Regions from separate parts of the Homo sapiens genome. Here all the other regions are linked to region 1. The links come from fine-mapping of genetic effects on gene expression. A gene starts in region 1. Each other region holds a variant in brackets. All regions are shown on one strand. Distances are from middle to middle.

What was found. PIP is the estimated chance that this variant, and not a neighbour inherited with it, causes the effect. A credible set is the group of variants that fine-mapping cannot tell apart.
Region 2: its variant is the best candidate, but not a certain one, in a credible set for the expression of MUTYH in whole blood (TOPMed, PIP 0.85).
Region 3: its variant is the best candidate, but not a certain one, in a credible set for the expression of MUTYH in T cells (TOPMed, PIP 0.74).

What each region holds. Positions count from the first base shown.
Region 1 is chr1:45,335,054-45,343,194 of GRCh38, forward strand. It overlaps MUTYH (mutY DNA glycosylase), which reads right to left and starts at 4,917. Exons shown (of 16, transcript NM_001048174.2): 1 at 4,846-4,917. TOE1 (target of EGR1, exonuclease) reads left to right here and starts at 5,117. Exons shown (of 8, transcript NM_025077.4): 1 at 5,117-5,251; 2 at 6,020-6,162; 3 at 6,250-6,290; 4 at 6,420-6,516; 5 at 6,896-7,054; 6 at 7,331-7,590; 7 at 7,790-7,949; 8 at 8,029-8,141. The coding sequence starts at 5,200. RefSeq lists enhancers at 4,439-5,106, 5,107-5,775, 5,128-5,477, 5,776-6,442.
Region 2 is chr1:45,253,050-45,261,190 of GRCh38, forward strand. No RefSeq gene overlaps it. Among named protein-coding and RNA genes, the nearest start is that of LINC01144, 47 kb to the right of the region's middle. The variant A/G (reference allele first, on the strand shown) is at 3,725.
Region 3 is chr1:45,419,425-45,427,565 of GRCh38, forward strand. It overlaps TESK2 (testis associated actin remodelling kinase 2), which reads right to left. Exons shown (of 11, transcript NM_007170.3): 3 at 2,301-2,422. Among named protein-coding and RNA genes, the nearest start is that of TESK2, 68 kb to the right of the region's middle. The variant T/C (reference allele first, on the strand shown) is at 5,059.

The sequences.
Region 1 (8,141 bases):
ATTCCTAATCTAGTAAACCATAGGTGGCTGACCATCAACAATGAGAAAATGTGCCTGGTTGATTTTCACTGCTCCCTAACTGTTATAATGGCCGCCTTTTCTCTAACAGCTAAAATTAGTTGATATTTTGTGAGTGCCTACTCTATGTCAGACCCCATGAAGAGCTTTACCGGATCTCTCAATCTCCTGGTGACTCTATGAGGTATGTACTAGTATCACCTCCACCTTAGTTATAAGGAAATTGAGGTTTATGGAGATTAAGCGACTTGTTCTTTCAAATCCACGACCAGCATTCTTATACTGTGATAAAATGCAGTCCCTGCTAAGCCTCTGTATCAAACTCTCCCCCCAAACCTTTGACTTTACCACCTCATTTTCATCAAAAGAGCTTGCCTCCTCCTTCAGAAAAAAAAAAACCAACTTCAAATCTACCTCCATTTGCACTGTCTTACCCTCCTCCTCTTCAGGGTCCTGCTCCTCCAATCCCGTCTAACTGTTGGAACTCAGAAACTAATACCCCAGGCCAGGCACGGTGGCTCATGCCTGTAATCCCAACACTGCGGGAGGCTAAGGCAGGCAGATCACTTGAGGCCAGGAGTTCGAGACCAGCCTGGCCAACATGGCGAAACCCCATCTCTACTAAAAATCCAAAAAAATTAGCCAGACGTGCTCGCTTGAACCCAGGAGGCAGAGCTTGCAGTGAGCTGAGATCATGCCACTGCACAGCCTGGGCAACAAAGACAGAGCAAGACTCTGTCTCAAAAAAAAAGAAAAGAAAAGAAACCAATACCCCAAAATATGGCCCTCTGACATGCTGAACTCAAGAAGCCGCAAGGTCTCTCTGATCCTTCCACCCCAGACTCTCCCAAAGCCAGGATAAAGTTGTTCTCTGGAACTCTTTATCTGCCTAAAGTCCAAACTCACTAAAAAGAATACTTGTTTTTTCTTCCCCTCCCAATAAGACTAACATGTAACCACACCTGAACAAACCCTTTCACAGGTATTGTGTACCTCAGGATCACTCAAATTCCAAAGAGAACTATTAACAAGTCAACCTCTGTCCCCATTCCATTCTCTCTAGTAATCCTTTATTGCCCTTCAACAGAATCTCCTTCTGGCCAAAGTTCGGTTTATTTAAAAACAAATAGAGCTGGACATGCTGGCTCAGGCCTGTAATCCCAGCACTTTGGGAGGCCAAGGCAGGAGGATTACTTGAGCCCAGGAGTTCGAGATTAGGCTTGCAACATAGCAAGACCCCGTCTCTACAAAAACAGAAAAACAGAATTTCTCTTCTACCCCTTGTCAGGCCTCTGAGCCCAAGCTAAGCCATCATATCCTCAGTAACCTGCACTTATACATCCAGATGGCCTGAAGCAACTGAAGATCTACAAAAGAAGTGAAAATAGCCTTAACTGATCACATTCCACCACTGTGATTTGTTTCTGCCCCACGCTAACTGATCAATGTACTTGGTAATCTCCCCCCCACCCTTAAGAAGGTTCTTTATAATCTCCCCACCCTTGAGAATGTACTTTGTGAGATCCACCCCCTGCCCCCAAAACATTGCTCTTAACTCCAATGCCTATCCCAAAACCTATAAGAACTAATGATAATTCCACCACCCTTTGCTGACTCCTTTTTTTCAGACTCAGCCTGTCTGCACCCAGGTGAAATAAACAGCCTTGTTGCTCAGACAAAGCCTGTTTGGTGGTCTCTTCACATGGACACACGTGAGACACCCCTCCCATAATCTGTTTTGCCAGATGGTATATAAACTCACGAACTCTGTAGGGAGATGGGTAATCACTTTATGGTTCTCCCAATGTGCATGTTAATAAATTTGTATGCCTTTTCTCCAGTTAACCTGCCTTTTGTGAGCTGATTTTTCAGCAGATCTTCAGAGGGCAAAGGGAAAGATTTTCCCCTTGGCTCGTAACACAATCAAATCCCACCCTCCTTCCCTTCATAGCCAAACTTCCTTCACCAAACCTGCTTACTTCCACATTCATTCTACAATCTATTCTCCAAAGAGCAAAGGAATCTTTTCCAGATCACGTCACTTCCTTCCTTATAACCTTCAATGGTTTCCCATTCTTTTTTTTTTTTTTGGGATGGGGTCTCACTCTGTCACCCAGGCTGGAGTGCAGTGGTGTGATCTTGGCTCACTGCAACCTCTGCTTCCTCGGCTCAAGCAATCCTCCCACCCCAATACCCCACCCCAACTCCAAGCAGCTGGGACCACAGGCGCACACCACCACCACATCCAGCTAATTTTTGTATTTTTGTTAGAGACAGGGTTTCACCATGTTGCCCAGGCTAGTCTCCACCTCCAGAGCTCAAGCAATCAACCCGCCTCGGCCTCCCAAAGTGCTGGGATACAGGCATGAGCCACGGCGCCTGGTGACACCCCATTATATTCTTTTATTTTCTTTCTTTTCTCTTTTTTTCTCCCTCCCTCTTTCCTTCCTTCCTTTTTTCCTTTTTCTTTCTTTTTTAAATACTGTAGGCCTTTACTATGGGTCATTAAATTCTTGAGCAAGCTGGTTGTGGTGGCTCAACACTGTAATCCTGCTACTCTGGAGGCTGAAGTGAAGAACAGCTTGAGCCCAGAAGGTCGAGGCTGCAGTGAGCTATGATTGTGCCACTGCACTCCACCCTGGGCTCAGCAAGACCTTGTCTCTTAAAGAAAAAAAAAGATTGAGCAAATATTTATAGAGCCCCCTAATATGTGCCAAGCAGTTTTAGGCACTTGGCATACTTCAGTAAATAAAACATCAAAAGTTCCTGCCCTCAGGGAGCTTATATTCTAATGGGGACAGAAAAGGAATAATGAACATAAGTAAATTCCATAAGATGTTAGGTGATAAATATTAGCATAAAAAGCAAAAATTAGACCAAGAGGGGAAAAAAAAGAGTGCCAAGGTGGGGTTTAATGTTGCAATTTTAAAGACTGTGGTCAAGGTAGACCCAAAGCATTCTAAGTGAGTGCAAAGGCCCCAAGGAGGGTGCCTGGTATGTCTGTGGTACAGTAAGTAGGTCAATGTGGTTAGAATGGAATGAGATGGGACTGAGTGGTAGAAGAGGTCAGAGAAGTAAACCAGATGAGGTGGGGAGAGGAGGGTCACAAAGTACCTTATAGGCCATTGGAGGGATTTGGCTGCCACACCCTTGCTCTTAGAAGGCAGTCCTCTTACTACAGCCTTGCAGGTCCAGTGATCCGGGCACCATCCGCCTCATCCCCTCACTATGCTCTAGCCAAGGTTGACTGAATTTAGTTGCTTAAACACCTCAAGTGTGTCTGCCCACCTTGGGGCCTCACACAATCCATTTCCTCTGTTTGGACTCTTTTATGCTTTTACCTAACACCTTATCATTTTTCAAGTCTTGACTGAAATGTCCAAATCAGGTCCCCTCATCTTATCCTATCACATATTTCTGCCTTGTAGCTCTTACCTAATGTAATTTTACATTACTTTGATTCTTTCCATCAGTGTGTACTTCCTGAATTTGACTGTAAAAAACGACTTGAGTGCAAGGACTGATTCTCTTGTTGATTGGTGTGTGTCCAAAGTCAGTGCCAGGTAAACTGTACACAATAGATACCTGTTAAATGAATTAATGGGATGGGGGATAGTCAAAAGAGTTTCCCTTTTTTAGGATAGGAGAAATCCAAAGAGTTTTTTTATTTTTGTTTTTTTTTTGTTTGTTTGTTTTGTTTTTAGAGACAGTGTGTCCCTCACTTTGCTGCTCTGCCACTCAGGCTGGAGTGCAATAAGAACATGGCTCACTGCAGCCTCGACCTCCTGGGCTCAAGCCATCCTCTCACCTCAGCCTCCTGTAGCTGGGACTACAGGTGCGCACCACCATGCCCAACTAATTTTTAATTTTCTTTTTGTAGAGACAAGGTTTCACTATGTTGCCCAGGCTAGTCTTGAACTCCTAGGGTCAAGCGATCCTCCCACCTTGGCCTCCTAAGATGATTACAGGCCATAAGCCACTGCGCCCGGCCCAAGCAGTTCTGAATAATGATGAAATGGGCTCAGTTGAGAGAAGCTGAAGATTAACTATAAACAATGAGTAACAAAGGAGCACTGGAAGGCAGAGGTGGATGGGAATCGTAGTGTTTACGGAGGGACTAGTCTCCAATAGGAATTTTTTTTTTTTTTTTTTTTTTGAGACGGAGTTTCGCTCTTGTTGCCTAGGCTGAAGTGCAAAATGGCGTGATCTCGGCTCACCGCAACCTCTGCCTCCCAGGTTCAAGCGATTCTCCTGCCTCAGCCTCCCAAGTAGTGGGATTACAGGCGCCCGCACCATACCCAGCTAATTTTTTTTGTACTTTTAGTAGAGACGGGGTTTCACCATGTTGGCCAGGCTGGTTTTGAACTCCGGACCTCAGGTAATCCGCCCGCCTCGGCCTCCCAAAGTGCTGGGATTACAGGCGTGAGCCACCGCGCCCGGCCTAGGAACCTCTTTCAAATTCAATCACCCTCTAGGTCGACTATACCGCCTAGCTGCTTCACAATTTGTCCCTTCCTCGCCATCCATACTGCCAGCCTTAATTCAAGTTCACATTATCACTTGATTGGATTATTACAAAAGCTTCCCTACCAATCGGTCGCTCTTACACCCTGGGCAGCCTCCTCCGATGGCCCACTCCCCGCCTCTTTCACTTTCTGGAGATCACTGAGCTCTCCATCCTCTCTGGGAATTTACCGATGCCCAGAACGCCCTTCTTTCCCCCACACGACCCTCTCCTAGTCTAACTCCTGGGCGTGCTTTAAGCTCAGCTCAGGCAGCGTCACCTTCTCTGGAAAGCCCAAACCCAGCCACCCCACTACCCGCTACCCGCGGCCCACGCTGATGAAGACAGCAGAACACGGAGGCCCCGCGTTCCCGCCGCGAGAGCAGGAGAGAAAGATTACCTCCCGCGAGCTCTAGCGCGCCCGGCTTTCCGGCGCACTCCAGGGGGCGTGGCTCGGGTCCACCCGGGCTGCGAGCCGGCAGCACAGGCCAATAGGCAATTAGCGCGCGCCAGGCTGCCTTCCCCGCGCCGGACCCGGGACGTCTGAACGGAAGTTCGACCCATCGGCGACCCGACGGCGAGACCCCGCCCCATCCCCGACTGCCTGAACCGCGCCAGGAGACGGACCGCAAGTCCAGCGTACCCACAGACGACTCAGGCGGGAGACGAGCGGTGTCATGGCCGCCGACAGTGACGATGGCGCAGTTTCAGCTCCCGCAGCTTCCGACGGTGAGCGGCTTCCCAGAGGTAGCCTTCAAAGCCTCTGCGCTCTGGGAGAGGGGAAGGCCTCGGGCTCATAGTTCTAGAGGCTCCTCAAGCTTCAGAGGACTGCTCCTTCCGCCTGAACTAGCCACGAGGAGACTACAAGTTCCGTTGTACACCGCGGCTCCGGCTGCAAAAGCCTGGAGCGTTGGGAGCATGGGGCTGATGGAGGCATGGCGGGAGATGTAGTCTGGAGCTCATAACGGTTAGTAGTAATAGTTGTGATTCAGTTCAGTGGAGTGGATTGAGCGTTGTGATCCAAAGGAAGGTAGGACGTATTGGGAGCTCTGGTGTGGGGCACTGCCAGGCTCTGGGGCTTACTGGGAGCTGTTGCTTGTGGCGCTGGGGCACCATGAGAACAGTAGTATGGATCCCTGTGGGATATTAAGGGAGCTGAGATCCTCAAGCCCTACAAAATGTTTCCTGCAGGACATGGGAAAAAAGAATCAAAGGTCGTCTAGTCCAACTTTCTCCTCTACAGATTGTGAAAGCGAGGTGGGAAGTAATTTACCCAGGCTCATACAAGCCAGTAGAAGACTCAGGCTTCCTCTCCCCAAATTCAGGGCATTCTCCACTCCAAGGCCTGTGTGTAGAACACGTGGGTTACAAAGGCTTGTGGGAAAAGCTACCAATGGAAACTACCCCCCTTACCACCATCACCGTGGCCTAGCTTGGTGTCTGTTCCCCTGGGCTCTTTCCTTAAGCATGAACATCCATCACCCTCCTAACCCCCAGGTGGTGTCAGCAAAAGCACAACATCTGGGGAGGAGCTAGTAGTCCAGGTTCCCGTAGTGGATGTGCAAAGCAACAACTTCAAGGAGATGTGGCCATCCCTCCTGCTAGCCATAAAGACAGCTAATTTCGTGGCTGTGGACACGGTGAGAGTTGGGAAACAAGGAGGGCAGGTGGTTGTGAAGGGGCTGGTGCTAGAGGCCTGTCACAACTCTCCCTTTACCTACCCACAGGAGCTGAGTGGGCTTGGGGACAGGAAGAGTTTGCTGAACCAGTAAGTATAAGCCCTTTTCTCTTTAGTGCCAGCCCTCAACTGTGGAGTGGGGGGGTCACAGACCTGGGTGGTTTGGGTCCTTCATAAGGCTAACTCCTAGCCACAGCAACCCCCATACCCAACCCCAAGGTGCATTGAGGAACGTTACAAGGCCGTGTGTCATGCTGCCAGGACCCGTTCTATCCTTTCCCTGGGCCTCGCCTGCTTCAAGCGGCAGCCAGACAAGGTATGAGCTGATCTCACCCCAATCCTAGGTGTGGCTGTGGGGTGGAGGGTAGAGAGATTCTAGGGAACATCAGATAGGAAGCATTTCTCTCCCAAATCTTTTTTTTTGACTTGATAGTTTTTTTTTTTTTATTTGAATAGGTTTATGGGGAACAGGTGGTGTTTGGTTAAATGAGTAAGTTCTTTAGTGGCAATTTCTGAGATTTTGGTGCACCTATCACCCAGTGTACACTGTGCCCAATGCGTAGTCTTTTATCCCTCACCTGCCTCCATCCTTTCCCCCCTGAGTCCCCAGAGTCCATTGTATCATTCTTAAGCTTTTGCATCCTCCTAGCTTGGCTCTCTGAAATCTTGATATAGCAGACTTCTCTTTCTCCCAGGGTGAACATTCCTATCTGGCTCAAGTGTTCAATCTCACTCTGCTGTGCATGGAGGAGTATGTCATAGAACCAAAGTCTGTGCAGTTCCTGATACAGCATGGCTTCAACTTCAACCAGCAGTATGCCCAAGGCATCCCCTACCATAAGGGCAATGACAAGGTAGGCCTCTAGCCTCCCTAGCCTTGAGTCTGCCCTTTCTGTGACTTTATTTCTTCCTACCCTAGGCTGGATGTCTGGGGAGAATCTGCTTCTTAGGGAGTATGGGGAATCACTAGTGACAGGGCTTGGGAAACAAGACTGGTATGAGGAGGGTGGGCAGCATTGGGTAAGGTAGAGAGAGAGCGTTCCAAGTGGGGAAGTCTGGGATAAGTGCCCAGCAGAAGAGGCTCCCTGGGGGACTCTGTCCTCCTCATTGACCCCTTTACTTTCATCTAGGGTGATGAGAGCCAGAGCCAGTCAGTACGGACCCTATTCCTGGAGCTAATCCGAGCCCGCCGGCCCCTGGTGCTACACAATGGCCTTATAGACTTGGTGTTCCTGTACCAGAACTTCTATGCACACCTCCCTGAGAGTCTGGGAACCTTCACCGCTGACCTGTGTGAGATGTTCCCAGCAGGCATTTATGACACCAAATATGCTGCTGAGTTTCATGCCCGTTTCGTGGCCTCCTACTTAGAATATGCCTTCCGGAAATGGTGAGGAAATGGTTGAGGGAAAGGGGTGGGGCCTGATACGAGTTTATTTCATTCACTTAAGATATTTATTGAGCTCCTACCATGTGCCCAGGCAGTGTTTTAGGTGCTGAGGATTCAGCAGTGAACAAAACAGACCACAAAACCCTGCTCTTATGGAGCTTATATGCTAGTGGACCATTACCCTCTTGCGCTGTTGCAGTGAACGGGAAAATGGGAAGCAGCGGGCAGCTGGCAGCCCACACCTTACCCTGGAGTTCTGCAACTATCCTTCCAGCATGAGGGACCATATTGATTACCGCTGCTGCCTGCCCCCAGCAACCCACCGTCCTCATCCCACCAGCATCTGTGACAACTTCTCGGTGAGAGCACCCACCTGTTTCTTGGGAGGGAAGGTTCTGATGCCTGGAGCCTCTTTCTAAGCCTCTTTCCCACCCCTAGGCTTATGGCTGGTGCCCCCTGGGACCACAGTGTCCTCAGTCTCACGATATTGACCTTATCATTGACACTGATGAGGCTGCGGCAGAGGACAAGCGGCGACGGCGACGACGTAG
Region 2 (8,141 bases), 82 kb before region 1:
TTATTTCCAAAGCCCAGACAATGGCAGACTGAATCTGTGGTAATTGATTAGTCACCTGTCCCTCCCTTGCCAGATTCTTCTCTTACATGCCAGGCACTTTCCAATGTCAAACTACTGCTTCCTTTTTCTCCTAATTGCCAGACTCTCTTCTGACTCTCAGTCTCCTCTAGACTCAATTCTGGGAGTGTTCCTGATTTTACTTGCTGGATTTTGAAACTTTACAATTACCTGTCTTACTTTTCTAAACAGCAATGCTTTAGGCATGAGATTAAAACTATTTAATTGCATATTACTGTACCTGGCTAAGGAAAATTAATGCCTTTTTTTTTTTTTTGAAACCGAGTCTTGCTCTGTCACCCAGGCTGGAGTGCAGTGGCGCGATCTCAGCTCACTGCAACCTCCGCCTCCCGGGTTCAAGCAATTCTCCTGCCTCAGCCTCCTGAGTAGCTGGGATTACAGGCACCCACCACCACACCCAGCTAATTTTTGTATTTTTAGTAGAGATGGGGTTTCACCATGTTGGTCAGGCTGGTCTCGAACCCCTGACCTTGTGATCCACCCACCTCGGCCTCCCAAAGTGCTGGGATTACAGGCGTGAGCCACCGCATCCGGCCAGTTGATGCCTATTTTGTAATGTTCCATTTATGAGAAATAACCTAGCTTTGAAACTTTTCACCTAGTGATGCTCACATTACCAATTTAGCCATTTTTACATCATTTTCAGCTATGTATTTCTTTTTTTCTTAAGTAGATTGACAAAGGAGACCAAACTTCCCTCAGGATGGTTTGGCCAATGTTTGGTTGAAGAGTCATGAAAAAAGCAATTCAATTTTAACAGTTCCTGCTCTGATCATTCATCCAAGAAATACTCACTTAGCTCCTATTGTGTTCCAAACACTGGTCCTGTAGCATTAATAAGACTCAAGACTCTGTCTTCCTGGAGCTCACTTCCTTGGTGAGGTGCCAGGCATTTTGATTAATAATAATAATAAAATGTAATAACCGCTTTAAGTGTCAGAGGAGCACAGTGGAAATCAGCTTGGTCCCAAACATTTCCTGAGTGACTGCGACTTCAGTCTGACTGGCAGGTACTATATTGAGCAGGGTGGGTGGGGATGGCGGGCTACAGAGATGAACCATAGGCCGGGTGCAGTGGCTTATGCACTTTGGGAGGCCGAGGTGGTGGATCACCTGAGGTCAGGAGTTTGAGACCAGCCTGGCCAACATAGTGAAACCCCGTCTCTACCAAAAATCCAAAAATTAACCAGGCATGGTGGCTCATGCCTGTAGTCCCAGCTACTCGGGAGGCTGGGGCAGGAGAATCACTTGAACCCAGGAGGCGGAGGTTGCAGTGAGCCGAGATCATGCCATTGCACTCTAGCCTAGGCGACAGGGTGAGACTACATCTCAAAAACAAACAAACAAACAGATGAACCGTATATGGTCCCTACCCTCAGGAACTTACAATCTAGTGAGGAAGACTGAATGGGGCTAGATGTTTTGAAGTTTACAAAGATAAAATGCTGGGCTGAATCTTGAAGGATAAGAAGATAGTGGGCAGACAGAGTTGGAAGAGGGAACTCTTCCAGACAAGGTAATAGCCTGAACAAAGATACAGAGGCATAAACCACAGGGTATGCTCAATGAACCAAAGGTCATTTGGCACTCATGAGGGTAGAGAACAAGTCTGGGAATGGTAAAAGTTGAAACCAAAGAGGGAAATAGAAGTCTTGAGAGAGGATTTAATATTATAGACATGGCAGTGGTGATATAGACAGACTTTATGTTTTAGAAAGATCACTCAGGTTTTGAGGTGGAGGGTGGGTTTTTGGCTTAGGTAAATGGATAGATTTGGTTTGATTCACTTAGCTAGAGAACACTGGAGGAGAAGATGTGGGTCATGCAGGGATTGATGGAGGGGACACAAAAAGTTCAGCTTAGGGTACATTGAATTTGAAGTGTCTCTGAAACATCACAGGGGAAACATTTTATAGGAGTTTGAATACATTAAGTAGCCAACCTGTCACAGCCTGATGGGCTCTTGCCTGCTGCACTGAGAACAGCAGATAATGCTGAAAAGAAAGAGTTTAATATCACAGGACCAGCCAAGCAGGACAGGAGGCATTTCTCAAATTCATGTCCCCAACAATTTGGAGGCTAGGGTGTTAAGGGCATTTTGGCAGACAGGGGTCTAGGGAACTGAAACTATCGATTGGCTGGGGATAAAGTCACAAGAGTGTTTAAATTGTCTTTGCACAGTCTAATCAGTTCCAGGGAGGGGGGCATCTAAGGACCAGGTAGCATCTCTTGTGTTGCCAAAATGCTAAATCTGAAAAATATCTCAAAGACTAGTTCTTTAGGTTTTACAATAGTGATGTTAATTCATTTGAATAGTTGGGAAAGTTACAAATCTTGTGACCCCCAGTTACATGACTCTGGGATAGCAAAAGCAGCTTATAGAAAAGCAAGCTTGGCTGGGTACAGTGGCTCACACTTGTAATCCCAGCACTTCGGGAGGCTGAGGTGGGTGGATCACCTGAGGTCAGGAGTTTGAGACCAGCCTAGCCAACATGGTAAAACTCCATCTCTACTAAAAACACAAAATTAGCCGGGTGTGGTGGCGCATACCTATAATCCCAGCTACTTGGGAGGCTGAGGCAGGAGAATCTCTTGAACCAGGGAGGCGGAGGTTGCAGTGAGCCGAGACTGTGCCACAGGACTACAGCCTGGACAACAAGAGCAAAATTCCATCTCAAAAAAGAAAAGAAAGTTAAACAATGACAGGTGATTGTTTATGCCTATTCTATAGCAAAGTTCAAGTCCCTACCATGATTCTAATCTTGTTTTATGAAAGCATCTTCAATCTCCAAACATGGAAGGGGGTCAGTTTTCCTTACCTCAAAGTTTAGCTATAAACTAAATTCCTTTCACAGTTATCTTGGCCTCTATACCAGAATAAGCAAAAAAGCAATTTAGCCTGTGAGATTAGAAGCAAGATGCAATTAGTCATGTTAGATTTCTCTCTCATTACTGGCCTGACATGGTAGTTCACGCCTGTAATCCCAGCACTTTGGGAAGCTGAGGCAGGCGGATCACTTGAGGTCAGGAGTTTGAGATCAGCCTGGCCAACATGGCGAAACACTGTCTCTACTTAAAAAAAAATACAAAAATTAGCTGAGCACGGTGGTGTGCAACTGTAATCCCATCTACTCAGGACACTGAGGCAGGAGAATTGCTTGAACACAGTAGGCAGAGGTCACAGTGAACCAAGATTACACCACTGCACTCCAACCTGGGTAACAGAACAAGACCCTGTCTCAAAAAAAAAAAAAAAAAAAAAAAAAGATTTATCTCTCATTACTTATAATTCTGCAAGGGTGGTTTCAGATGCAGGGAGTGATCAGGACCTGGGAAGATTTGTGAGTCATCAACTTATAGATGGTAGTTAAAACCAAGGGAAGTGATAAGGCCAAATATACCCAGACTCTAAAATATTAATGGATTAAAAAGTAATGCCAATTTCTCTAGGACAAACTTCTGGTGAATAGTGAATAACCTACGTTCCAATAATATAATTTCTTCCCATGGTATTTTTTTTTGGCGGGGGTGGGGGGTATAGGGTTTCACTCCTATCACCCAGGCTGGAGTGCAGTGGCATGATCTTGGCTCACTGCAACCTCTGCCTCCCAGGCTCAAGTGATCCTTTCACCTCAGCCTCCCAAGT[A/G]TCTGGGACTACAGGCACCCACCACTGCACCTAGTTAATTTTTGTTTTTATAGAGACAGGGTTTTGCCATGTTGCCCAGGCTGGGATTAAACTCCTGAGCTCGAGTGATCCACCTGCCTTGGTGTCCCAAAGTGCTGGGATTACAGGCATGAGCCACTGCACCTGCACACTCCCCCATGGTATTTAATAAAGCTTCATTTAGTTTTCCATTTCATTTTTTATTCCATTTAAAAATTTTTAAATGCAACAAGAGAGGAGAGGTGGAGGACAACTATATAGTAAGGAAACCTGTCAAATACTAACTCAGCTTGGTTATCAAGGTTAACATCATCACTGACAGGTCATGTGATATGGTTTGGATCTGTGTCCCGGCCCAAGTCTCATGTTGAATTGTAATCCCCAATGTTGGAGGTGGTGCCTGGTGGGAGGTGATTATATGATGGGGGTGAACTTCTTGTGAGTGGTTTGGCACCATCATTTTGGTGCTGTCCTCACCATAGTAAGTGAGTTCTTGTGACACCTGGTCATTTAAAAGTGTGTGGCACCTCCTTCCCCTCTCTTTCTTGCTCCTGCTTTCACCATGTGACATGCTTGCTCTCCCTTCACCATCCACCATAATTGGAAGCTTTCTGAGGTCTCCCAAGAAGCTGCTATGCTTCCTGTACAGCCTGCAGAACAATGAGCCAATTAAACCTCTTTTCTTTATAAATTACCCAGTCTCAGGTATTTCTTTATAGCTGTGCAAGAATAGACTAATACAGAAAGTTGGTATTGAGGAGTGGGGCATTGCTATAAAGACACCTGAAAATGTGGAAGCAACTTTGGAATTGGGTAATGGGCAGAGGTTGGAAGAGTGTGGAGGGTTCAGAAGAAGAAAAGATGATGAGGGAAAATTTGGAACGTTCTAGAGACTTGTTGAATAGTTGTGACCAAAATGCTGATAGTGACATGGACAGATATTGGACAGGCTGAGGAGGTCTCAGATGGAAATATGGAACTTATCGTGAACTGGAGCAAAGGTCACTTTTGCTATGCTTTAGCAAAGAGCTTGGTTGGATTGTGCCCCTGCCCTAGGGATCTATGGAATTTTGAACTTGAAAGAGATGATTTAGGGTATCTGGTGGAAGAAAGTTCTAAGCAGAAAAGTGTTTGAGACGTGGCCTGGCTGCTTCTAACAACCTATAGCTCATATGTATGAACAAAGAAATGACCTGAAACTAAAACTTATATTTAAAGGGGAAGCAGAGCATTAAAATTTGGAACATTTGCAGCCTGGCCATGTGGTAGAAAAGAAAGGCCCATTTTCAGGAAAGGAATTCAAGCAGGCTGCAGAAATTTTCATAAGTAAAGAGGAGCAAAGTGATAATATCCAAGACAATGGGGGAAGAGCTTCAAAGGCATTTCAGAGACCTTCAAGGCATCCCCTCCCATCACAGGCCTGGAGGTCTAGGAGGACAAAATGGTTTGTGGGCCAGGCACAGGACAGCCTTGGGACACTGCTGCCTGTGTGCCAGCCACTCTAACTCTAGCTGTGGCTAAAAAGGGCCCAAGTACAGCTTGGGCCACTGCTTCAGAGAGTGCAAGTAATAAGCCTTGACAGTTTGCACATGGTGTTAAGCCTACAGGTGCACAGAGTACACAAGTTGAGGCTTGGGAGCCTCCGCCTAGATTTCAGAGGATGTATGGAAAACCCTGTATGTCCAGGCAGAAGCCTGCTGCAGGAGTGGAGCCCTCATGATGAACCTCTTCTAGGGTGATGCAGAGGGAAAATATGAGGTTGGACCCCACACACAGAGTCCCCACTGAGGCACTGCCTAGTGGAGCTGTGAGAAGAGGGTTATCATCCTCCAGACCCTGGAATGGAAGATCCACTGGCAGCTTGCACCCTGTGCCTGGAAAGCCATAGGCACTCAATGCCAGCCCCTGAGAGCAGTTGTTCTGGGGGCTGAACCAGCAAAGCCACAGGAGCAGAGCTTCCCAAGGCCTTGGGAGCCCCTTCCCTTGCATCAGAGTGCCCTGGATGTGAGACATGAATTCGAAGGAGATTATTTTTGAGCTTTAAGATTTAATGGTTGCCCTGCTGGGTTTTGGACTTGCATGGTGCCTGTAGCCCCTTTCTTTTGGCTGATTTCTCCTTTTTGAAATAGGAGTATTTACCCCAGGGGTGTTCAATCTTTTGGCTTCCCTGAGCCACAGTGGAAGAAGAATAGTCTTGGTCCACATATAAAATACACTAACACTAACGAGAGCTGATAAGCTAAAAAAAAATTGCAAAACATATCTCATAGTGTTTTAAGAAACTTGTGTTGAGCCATGTCCAAAGCTGTCCTGGGCTGCATGTGGCCCATGGGCCATGAGTTGGACAAGCTTGATTTACACAACAGCTATACCCCCACTGTCTCTGGAAGTAACTAACTTGTTTTTGATTTTACGGACTCATAGGTGGAAGGGACTTCCCGTTTCAGATGAGACTTTGGACTTTGGACTTTGGACTTTTGGGTTAATGCTAGAATAAGTTAAAATTTTGGGGGACTGTTGGAACGCATGGTTGTACCTTGAAATGTGAAAATGACATGAGATTTGGGAGGGGCTGGGGGTAGAATGATATGGTTTGGATCTGTGTTCCTGTCCAACTCTCATGTCAAATTGTAATCCGCAATGTTGGAGGTGGGGCCTGGTGGAAGGTAATTGAATCATGAGAGTGTTTCTCATGGATGGCTTAATACCATCCCCCTGGTTGCTGTTCTCATGATAGTGAGTGAGATCTCATGAGATCTGGTTGTTTAAAAGTGTGTAGCACCTTCCCCCTCTCTCTCTTCCTCTTGGTCTGGCCATGTGAGATGCCTTGCTTCACCTTCACCTTCCACCATGATTATAAGTTTCCTGAGGCCTCTCCAGAAGCTGCCATGCTTCCTATACAGTCTGCAGAACCATCAGCCAATTAAACCTCATTTCTTTATAAATTACCCAGTCTCTGGTATTTCTTCATAGCAGTGTGAGAGAAGACTAATACCTCATGTTAATGGCAATGTACCCTTGATATTGAAACTGAGGACAAACCCAATTAGGCCCACCAAATTTAACTTACCTTACTTGTCTTTATTAATTTGCTTTTAGTTGATTTTAAAACCTATATAGCTAAAAGTCACATTGCTAAGTAATATATAACTAAATTTCCACTAGCTTTCTTGTAGATAACATTTCTGATGTATAGATCACCATGGTAATGGTTGCTTAAGTTGTTTTTCAGGAACTTAGAGAGTCAGTTCTTGTCCAGTTCAAGCCAGCTGAGACCACCAACCTTTCAACTGGGCCTGTGTGAGCATCTGATGGGTCACCTTTTGATGTCAGAGGGCCAAAAACTCCACCCTCAGATCATGCTAATGCTGTAATTTTCTGAACATATATTCTATGAAGAGCCATGAAGTCTGTTATGCTTGCACAGATGACCAATTACCTCAGTTTTCCTTACCACGATCACCTTTCCCCATGCTTTGGACCATCTTGCTCCTCTATTCTATAAATATCCCTAAAATTCCATCTTCAGGGAGGCAGATTTGAGACCTGTTTTCCCATATCCTTGTTTGGCTGCCTCATGAATAAACTCTTCCTCTGCAGCAAAACACATCATCTCAGTGATTGACATACTGCATGACAGGAAGAAGAAGCCTGGTTCAGTAACAATATGATGGGATGAGAATGGTATTTCACCTCTGTGATTTTTTCCAAAACCTATGACCCCAGTCTAACCATGAGAAAAACACTGGACAAATACGGACATTTGCAAAAACAAACAAACCCTGGCCAGTGCTTCTCAAAACTGTCAAAGTCATCAAGGACAACAAAGTATGAGAAACTATCACAGACCAGAAGAAGCTAGGGAGACATGATGACAGAATGTAATGTGGTGTCCTGAAGAGGATCCTCAAACAGCAAATGGACTTTGGGGGGAAAACTGGTGAAATGCTAATAAAGTGTTTAATTTATAGTCACGTACCAATGTTGATTTCTTAGTTGTGATATATGTCCCATGGTAATATAGGATGTTAACAATAGGGGAAACTGAGTGAGGGGTATGTGAGAATTCTCTGCCCTATCTTCACAACTTTTGTTTACATTTGAAACTATTCTGAAATTAAAAGCATAATTAAACAGCTGCACCCAGTAAACATTTCTGTTTTCCTTGAGTTCGCTTTTAGGCAAAAAATATTTCTCCCTGTGGTGTAGAGTGAGAAAAGCTGTGTAGAGAGAATGGCCCCTGAGGAAAACCAACATTTACAAGGCAGTCAGAGAAAGGAGGAAAGACAAGAACCATTGTTGAAGTCAGGAGAGTACAATGTTTAGGAGAGGGTCAACAGGATCCAATGCCAAGAAGTCTAGTAAGATAAGGACCTAAATGTCCACCAAAAAATAGAAT
Region 3 (8,141 bases), 84 kb after region 1:
TTGCTAGCAGACACTCTATTTTATATATATCTTGATATCTTTCTGATGTCTGAATATATCACCAGGCATATAGTAGATGCTCAAAAAATGTGTTAATCTGGCCAGGTGCGGTGGCTCACACCTGTAATCCCAGCACTTTGGGAGGCCGAAGCAGGTGGATTACCTGAGGTCAGGAGTTCAAGACAAGCCTGGCCAACGTGGTAAAACCCCGTCTCTACTAAAAATACAAAAATTAGCCGGGTGTGATGGCGAGTGTCTGTAATCCCAGCTACTTGGGAGGCTGAGGCAGGAGAATCACTTGAACCCAGGAGGTGGAGGTTGCAGAGAGCTGAGATCGAGCCATTGCACTCCAGCCTGGGCGACAAGAGTGAAACTCCGTCTCAAAAAAAAAGTGTTAATTTGACTTATAAATTTGAAAGAAAGTCACCACAATAAAAATACTGGCTGAATATTTTTGTAGTAGACTAGGAAGCCAATAATTCTATATAAGGATAAAAAGTTTCAAGTAAGCAGTATAATTTAATTCCATAATTTAATACCATTGACCAAACATGTAAGTCATACTTAAGCCATATGAGTTCTCTCTAGCCTAATATAAACATACAAAAAATAGCAATAAATGACCCTAAGTAAATAGTACTTTAAACTTTACAAAGCATCCTGCACATAAACCCTAACTAAATATACATTGAATTAAATTGTCTTATTTGGTCTCATTTAAAAATATACTGGCCAGGTGTGGTGGATCACACCTGTAATCCCAGCCTGAACAACACAGTGAGACCTTATCTCATTTAAGAAAAATTTTTTTTAACAAAATCATTTTTGTTTTTAATATAGGGTCTCACTCTGTCACTCAGGCTGGAGTGCAGTGCTGCAATCATGGCTCACTGTAGCTGTGAACTATTGGCTCAAGAGATCCTCCCACCTCAGCCTCCCGAGTAGCTGAAACTACAGGCACATGCCATTATACCTGGCTAATTTTTTTTTGTTGTTTGTTGTTGTTGTTGTTTGTAGAGATGGGGTTTCACCATGTTGCCCAGGCTGGTCTTAAACTCCTAGGCTCAAGAGATCCACCCACCTTGGCCTCCCAAAGTACTGAGATTACAGGCATGAGCCATCATGCCTGGCCAAATAAAATTTTTTTTTTTTTTTTTTTTTGAGACGGAGTCTTGCTCTGTCACCCTGGCTGGAGTGCAGTAGTGCAATCTCAGCTCACTGCACTAGGTTCCCAGGGGGAACCTCCACTTCCCGGGTTCAAGCAATTCTCCTGCCTCAGCCTCCCAAGTGGCTGGGACTATAGGCACGTGCCACCACGCCCGGCTAACTGTTTTTTTGTATTTTTAGTAGAGATGGGGTTTCACCATGTTAGCCAGGATGGTCTCAATCTCCTGACCTCATGATCCGCCTGCCTCGGCCTCCCAAAGTGCTGGGATTACAGGCGTGAGCCATCGCGCCCAGCCAAATTTTTTTTAAAAAGAAAATATACTTGCCTGACTAAAATATCAAAATAATTAAAGCAAGAAAGATTCAGATACGGATTATTAAAAAGTGACAATTACATAAACTTATAAAAATAATTGTCCACTTTGGGAGGCCAAGGAGGGTGAATTGCTTGAGCCCAGGAACTTGAGACCAGCCTGGGCAAATGGTGGAACTCTGACTTTACGAAAAATGTGAAAATTAGCTGGATGTGGTGGTGCGCCTGTAGTTCCAGCTGCTCAGGAGTCTGAGGTGGGGAAGCTCAACTGGGCCCTGGAGGTCAAGGCTGCAGTGAACCATGATCATGCCACTATACTCCAGCCTGGGTGACAGAGTGAGACCCTATCTCAAAAAAATAACAATTCTCAAAGGCAAAATGTGTCTCCTCAAGTGAGTGCTAAAAGTTAAGGATAGATAACTTGAGGGTGTAATTTTACATTTATTGCCACTCATTGATTTAATTACAATTTCCCAAAAAGTAATCAGGAAAAGTAAATAACCACATAAAGACCAATCTCTCCTCTTTGATAAATTACCAGTCAGCAATAGAAAACAATTGTTCTAATGAGCTGCTACTAATGTTCTAATGAGAGTAAAGCAACTTAAGAGATAAAGGAAGTTGCTTTATTAAATGCAGTTAATTACCAATAAATTAAGTCTCAATGGGTAGAAAACGACCTAGAGTACCACTAAACCCCAGCAAGATAGATTCAGCATGATAAATCCTGAATCCCTCCTTTTTTTCCTATTAGTGCTATTCTAGCAAGCCTCCAATGTTTCAGTTTTCTCATTGATCAGAAGGAAGGAAAAGCCATTACCTAAGGATGTTGGGATGGGAGAGTCTATTCATGAGCTGTACTTCTTTCAGCATGTTTGCCCGGTTACTGCTCAATGTGTTCATCTTAAGAGCCATCACCTGACCAGAAGCTCGGTGTCGTACCTAGAATATTAAATAGAACAAGAAAAGAGGGTCAAGGGCAATAGTTATATGTGAGGTCAACATCTCCAAATGTACAATATGCCAAGATATTTTTGTGCCACTTTAGATAAAATATACATCTAATTACATTAAAGTATCACTTCCATGAATGAAGATGAATTATTCTACCCAAGAACAGTATTATTTCACATTGAGTTGGCCAGAAAAACACTGTTACTAACATCTCAAGAAAACATGTCTGATATACACCATGGAATACTATGCAGTCATAAAAAGGAATGAGGTCATGTCCTTTGCAGGGACATAAATGAAGCTGGAAGCCATCATCCTCAGCAAATTAACACAGGAACAGAAAACCAACACTGCATGTTTTGAACATTGAGAACACATGGACACAGAGAGGGAAACAACACGCACCAGGGCCTGTTAGCGGGTGGGGGGTGAAGGAAGGGAACTTAGAACTTAGTCAACAGGTGCAGCAAACCACCATGGCACAAACCTGCATGTTCTGCACATGTATCCCATGTTTTCTTTTTTTTAGAAGAAATAAAGAAAAAAATGAAGAAATAAATAAAAGAAATCATGTCTGGTTTGTTGCTGTTGTTGTTTTTGTTTGAGACAGGGTCTCACTGTGTCACCCAGACTGGAGTGTAGTGGCACAATCTCGGCTCACTGCAACCTCCACCTCCCAGGTTCAAGTGATTCTCCTGCCTCAGCCTCCTGAGTAGCTGGGATTACAGGCATGTGCCAACACACCCGGCTAATTTTTGTATTTTTAGTAGAGACAGGTTTTCACCATGTTGGCCAGGCTGGTCTCAAACTCTTGACCTCAGGTGATCTGCCTGCCTCGGCCTCCCAAAATGCTGGGATTACAGGTGTGAGCCACCATGCCCAGCCAATCATGTCTGGTTTTTTGTTGTTGTTGTTGTTGTTTTTGTTTTGAGACAGAGTCTTGCTCTGTCACCCAGGCTAGAGTGCAGTGGCGTGATCTCGGCTCACTGAAACCTCCACCTTCCGGGTTCAAGCAATTCTCCTGCCTAAGCCTCCCGAGTAGCTGCGATTACAAGCGCCTGCCACCGCGCCCAGCTAATTTTTGTATTTTTAGTAGAGACGGGGTTTCACCATGTTGGCCAGGCTGGTCTCGAACTCCTGACCTTGTGATCCACCAGCCTTGGCCTCCCAGCCACCGTGCCTGGCCTGTTTTTAATACCTTAGAAAAAAAAAATGAGGGAAAATTTTTAAGCTGATTCCTCATGGCTGACCTTGGTGAGTCTTAAGACACCAACAGAAAAGAGTCCCTTCTGTGGCATTCTAAGTGTGCAAAACGAAGATATATGCATGAGCCTTATGTAACACTTAATGAAACTGTCTTTATAAGATGCTAAACCCACATACTCAAAGTCTCCCCCAAGTACCATAAAAATCCATAGGCCGGGCACAGTGGCTCACGCCTGTAATCCCAGGACTTTGGGAGACCAAGGGGGACAGATCACGAGGTCACAAAATCGAGACCAGCCTGGCTAACATGGTGAAATCCCGTCTCTACTAAAAACACAAAAAATTAGCTGGGCGTGGTGGCGGGCACCTGTAGTCCCAGCTACTCGGGAGGCTGAGCCAGGAGAATGGCATGAGCCTGGGAGGCGGGGCCCGCAGTGAGTGGAGATTGTGCCACTGCACTCCAGCCTGGGTGACAGAGCGAGATTCCGTCTCGCGAAAAAAAAAAAAAAATCTATAAAAAAAAAAAATTTCATGCTAAATATAGAAAGAAGTCCGTGAACCTTTTAGAGCTAATATTGTAGTAACTCTACCCAAAGCACCTTATAATCATTTAAACACACTCAAGTTAAATACAACAAACATGGGCCACACCACTCACACTATTACCCATATGCACAGAGGAAAGTCTACTTCTAAAAGTATTCGCCCTCTATAGAACTCAATCTATTGTGCATGTGTAAATATTATTTATCATTTCAATGCACACTCCACAGGTTTCATAAACCATAACACTTTACTTGAGAAAGATTGTTTTCACCCTGTAAATGTGGTCTCATTGGTAGCAAAATAAGACCACCAGACAAAACATTTTGTGTGATTCAAAGAAGCTAAACTGAGATATGTGTGTTTCCTGCTTAGGAATTATGAATGAGGCAGTAGAAAAATCATGAAGTCACAAAGATCTTTCTCGTTAAAAAAATTTCATTTCATATCTTGCACAACAGGGACTTTACTATGCAAAAATGTCATCATCCTACGGACTTCAGGAGTATCATTTCAGTATGCTATACTCAACCAAATGGGAATTCCAAAAGAAAACATGACAACTTACTTAAACTCTTCAATATCCAAAAACTCCTTGAAATGACAATAGCTCCACAAGTTTATCATAGCTATTAATACAGGTCAGACATCACAGCTTATCTTAGAATTCAAACAGTGTTTCAGAGAGGCCAGGCAGAAGAGGGAAGGCTGTTGAGGGGGAGGCCGGGCCAAAACACAAAGAGCCACAGGAACCCTGATCGGAAAAACTAAGGCAGGCAGAACACTGGCTGCCTCTCCTCTCCTAGATCACTGAGTGAGATTTGGAACCCAGCTCTCTTCTCAGTGCATCAAGGATTCTGTTGTAATGTACCTCT[T/C]GACTGATGAAAGAGAAGTAGCTTTCCATTTCAGATCCTGCATGGATAAGTTAAAAGAAACATTTATAAACAAAGAGCTCACTGGTAGTATTTTTCCAACTCTATTTACAGAAGACATCTGTGTTTTAATAAGGACTCTCCAGCTGAAAGTCACTCTTCTTATTTTTCCATCATCTGAAAACTGTCACACTAAGATTTTAACAAAATGGCAAAACCCATGAAAAGATCATTCATCCTGACCAACCGGGATTTATCCCTGGGATGTAAGGATAGTTCAACATACGTAAATCAATCAATGTGATACATTATATCAACAGAATGAGGGACAAAAACCATATGATCATTTCAATTAATGCTGAAAAAGCATTTGATAAAATTCAACATCTCTTCATAATAAAAACCCTCAAAAAACTAGGTATAGAAGGAACATAGCTCAAAAAGCCATATATGACAGACCCAAAGCTAGTATCATACTTAATGAAGAAAAACTGAAAGCCTTTCCTCTGGGATATGGAACACAAAAAGGATCCCCACTTTTACCACTGTTATTTAACATAGTACTGGACACCCTAGCTAGAGCAATCAGACAAGAGAAAGAAATAAAGGGCATCCAAATTGGAAAGGAAGAAGCCAAATTATTCTTGTCTGCAGATGATTATGATCTTGTATTTGGAAAAACCTAAGACTACACTAAAAAAACTATTAGAACTGATAAATTCAGAAAAGTTACAGCATACAAAATCAACATACAAAAATCAGTAGCATTTCTATATGCCAACAGTGAACAATCTGAAAAAGAAACCAAAAAGTAATCCAATTTATAGTAGCTCCAAATAAAATTAAATACCTAGAAATTAAGTTAGCCAATGAATTAAAAGAGCTCTAAAAGGCCAGGCACAGTGGTTCACGCCTGTAATCCCAATACTTTGGGAGGCCAAGACAAAAGGATTGCTTGAGTCCAGGAGTTCGAGACCAGCCTGGGCAACATAGTGAGACACTATCTCTACAAAAAATACAAAAAAATTAACTGGGCTTGGTGGTTCAAGCCTGTGGTCCCAGCTAGTCGGGAAGCTGAGGTGGGAGGATTGCTTGAGCCCAGGAGGTCAAGGCTGCAGTGAGCTGTGATCGTGCCACTATACTCCAGCCTGGGTGACAGAGCAAGACTGTCTCAAAAACAAACAAAAAAGTTCTCTACAATGAAAGTTATAAAACATTGATGTAAGAAACTAAAGATACAAAAAAATGGAAAGATATTCCATGTTCATGAATTGCAACAATCGGTATTTTTAAAATTCCCATACTACTCAGATACTAAACTTTCTATGGAATCACAAAGACCCAGAATCGCCAAAGCCATCCTGAGGAAAAGAAAAAAAGCTGGGCCGGGTGCAGTAGCTTATGCCTGTAATCCCAGCACTTTGGGAGGCCGAGGTGGGTGGATCACCTGAAGTCAGGAGTTTGAGATCAGCCTGGCCAACATGGTGAAACCCTGTCTCTACTAAAAAAAAAAAATACAAAAACTAGCTGAGCGTGATGGCATGCCCCTGTAATCCCAGCTACTCGGGAGGCTGAGCAGGAGAATGGCTTGAACCCGGGAGGCAGAGGTTGCAGTGAGCCAAGATTGCACCACTGCACTCCAGCCTAGGTGACAGAGCTGAGACTTTGTCTCAAAAGAAAAAAAGAAAGAAACTGGAGGAATCACATTACCTGATTCAAATTATACCACAGAGCTATTGTAACCAAAATAACATGGTATTGGCATAAAAACAGAAACATAGACCAATGGAACAGAATAGAGAATCCAATAACAAATCCATAAATCTACAATAAACTCTCATTTTCAACAAAAGTACCAAGAACATACATTGGGGAAAGGACAGTCTCTTCAACAAATAGTGCTGGGAAAACTGTATAGTTACATGCAGAAGAATGAAACTAGACTCCTATCTCTAGCCATATGCAAAAATCTAATCAAAATGGATTAAAGATTTCGATCTAGGACCTCAAACTATGAAACTACTACAAGAAAACATCGGGGGAAACTCTCCCATTGGTCTGCAAAGATTGCTCGAGTAATACTCCAAAAGCACAGGCAACTAAAGCAAAAATGGACAAATGGGATCACATCCGGTTAAAAAGCTTCTGCACAGCAAATGAAACAAAGTGAAGAGTCAATCCATGGAATGGGAGAAAATATTTGCAAAATATCCATCTGACAAAGGATTAATAACCAGAATATATAAGAAGTTCAAACAACTCTATAGGAAAAAAAAATCTAACAATCAGATTTTTTAAATGGGCAAAAGATCTGAACAGACATTTCTCAAAAGAAGACATACGAACAGCAAACAGGTATATGTAAAGGTATTCAACATCACTGATCATCACAGAAATGCAAATCCAAACTACAATGAGATATCATCTCACCCTAGTTAAAATGGTTTTTATCCAAAAGAAGGGCAATAAAGAATTCTTGCAGGCTGGGCACGGTGGCTCACGCCTGTAATCCTAGCACTTTTGAGAGGCCGAGGTGGAGGATTACCTGAGGTCGGGAGTTGGAGACCAGCCTGGCCAACATGGTAAAACCCCGTCTCCACTAAAAATACAAAAATTAGCTGGGCATGGTAGTGCACGTCTGTAATTCCAGCTACTTGGGAGGCTGAGGCATGAGAATCACTTGAACCTGGGAGGCAGAGGTTGCAGTGAGCCAAGATCACGCCACTGCACTTCAGCCTCAGCAAGACTCTGTCTCAAAAAAAAAAAAAAAAAAAAAAAAAGAATTCTTGCAAAGATGTAGAGAAAGGGGTAAGCCTCGTGCACTGTTGGTAGGAATGTAAATTGGTATAGCCACTATGGAGAACAGTTTGGAGGTTCCTCAAAAAACTAAGAATAGAGCTACCATATGATCCAGCAATCCCACTGCTGGGTATATACCAAAAGAAGGGAAATCGGTATGTCAAATACATATCTGCACTTCCATGTTTATTGTAGCACTATTCACAATAGCCAAGATTTGGATGCAACCTAAGTGTCCATCAACAAACAAATGGATAAAGAAAATGTGGTACATACACACAATGGAG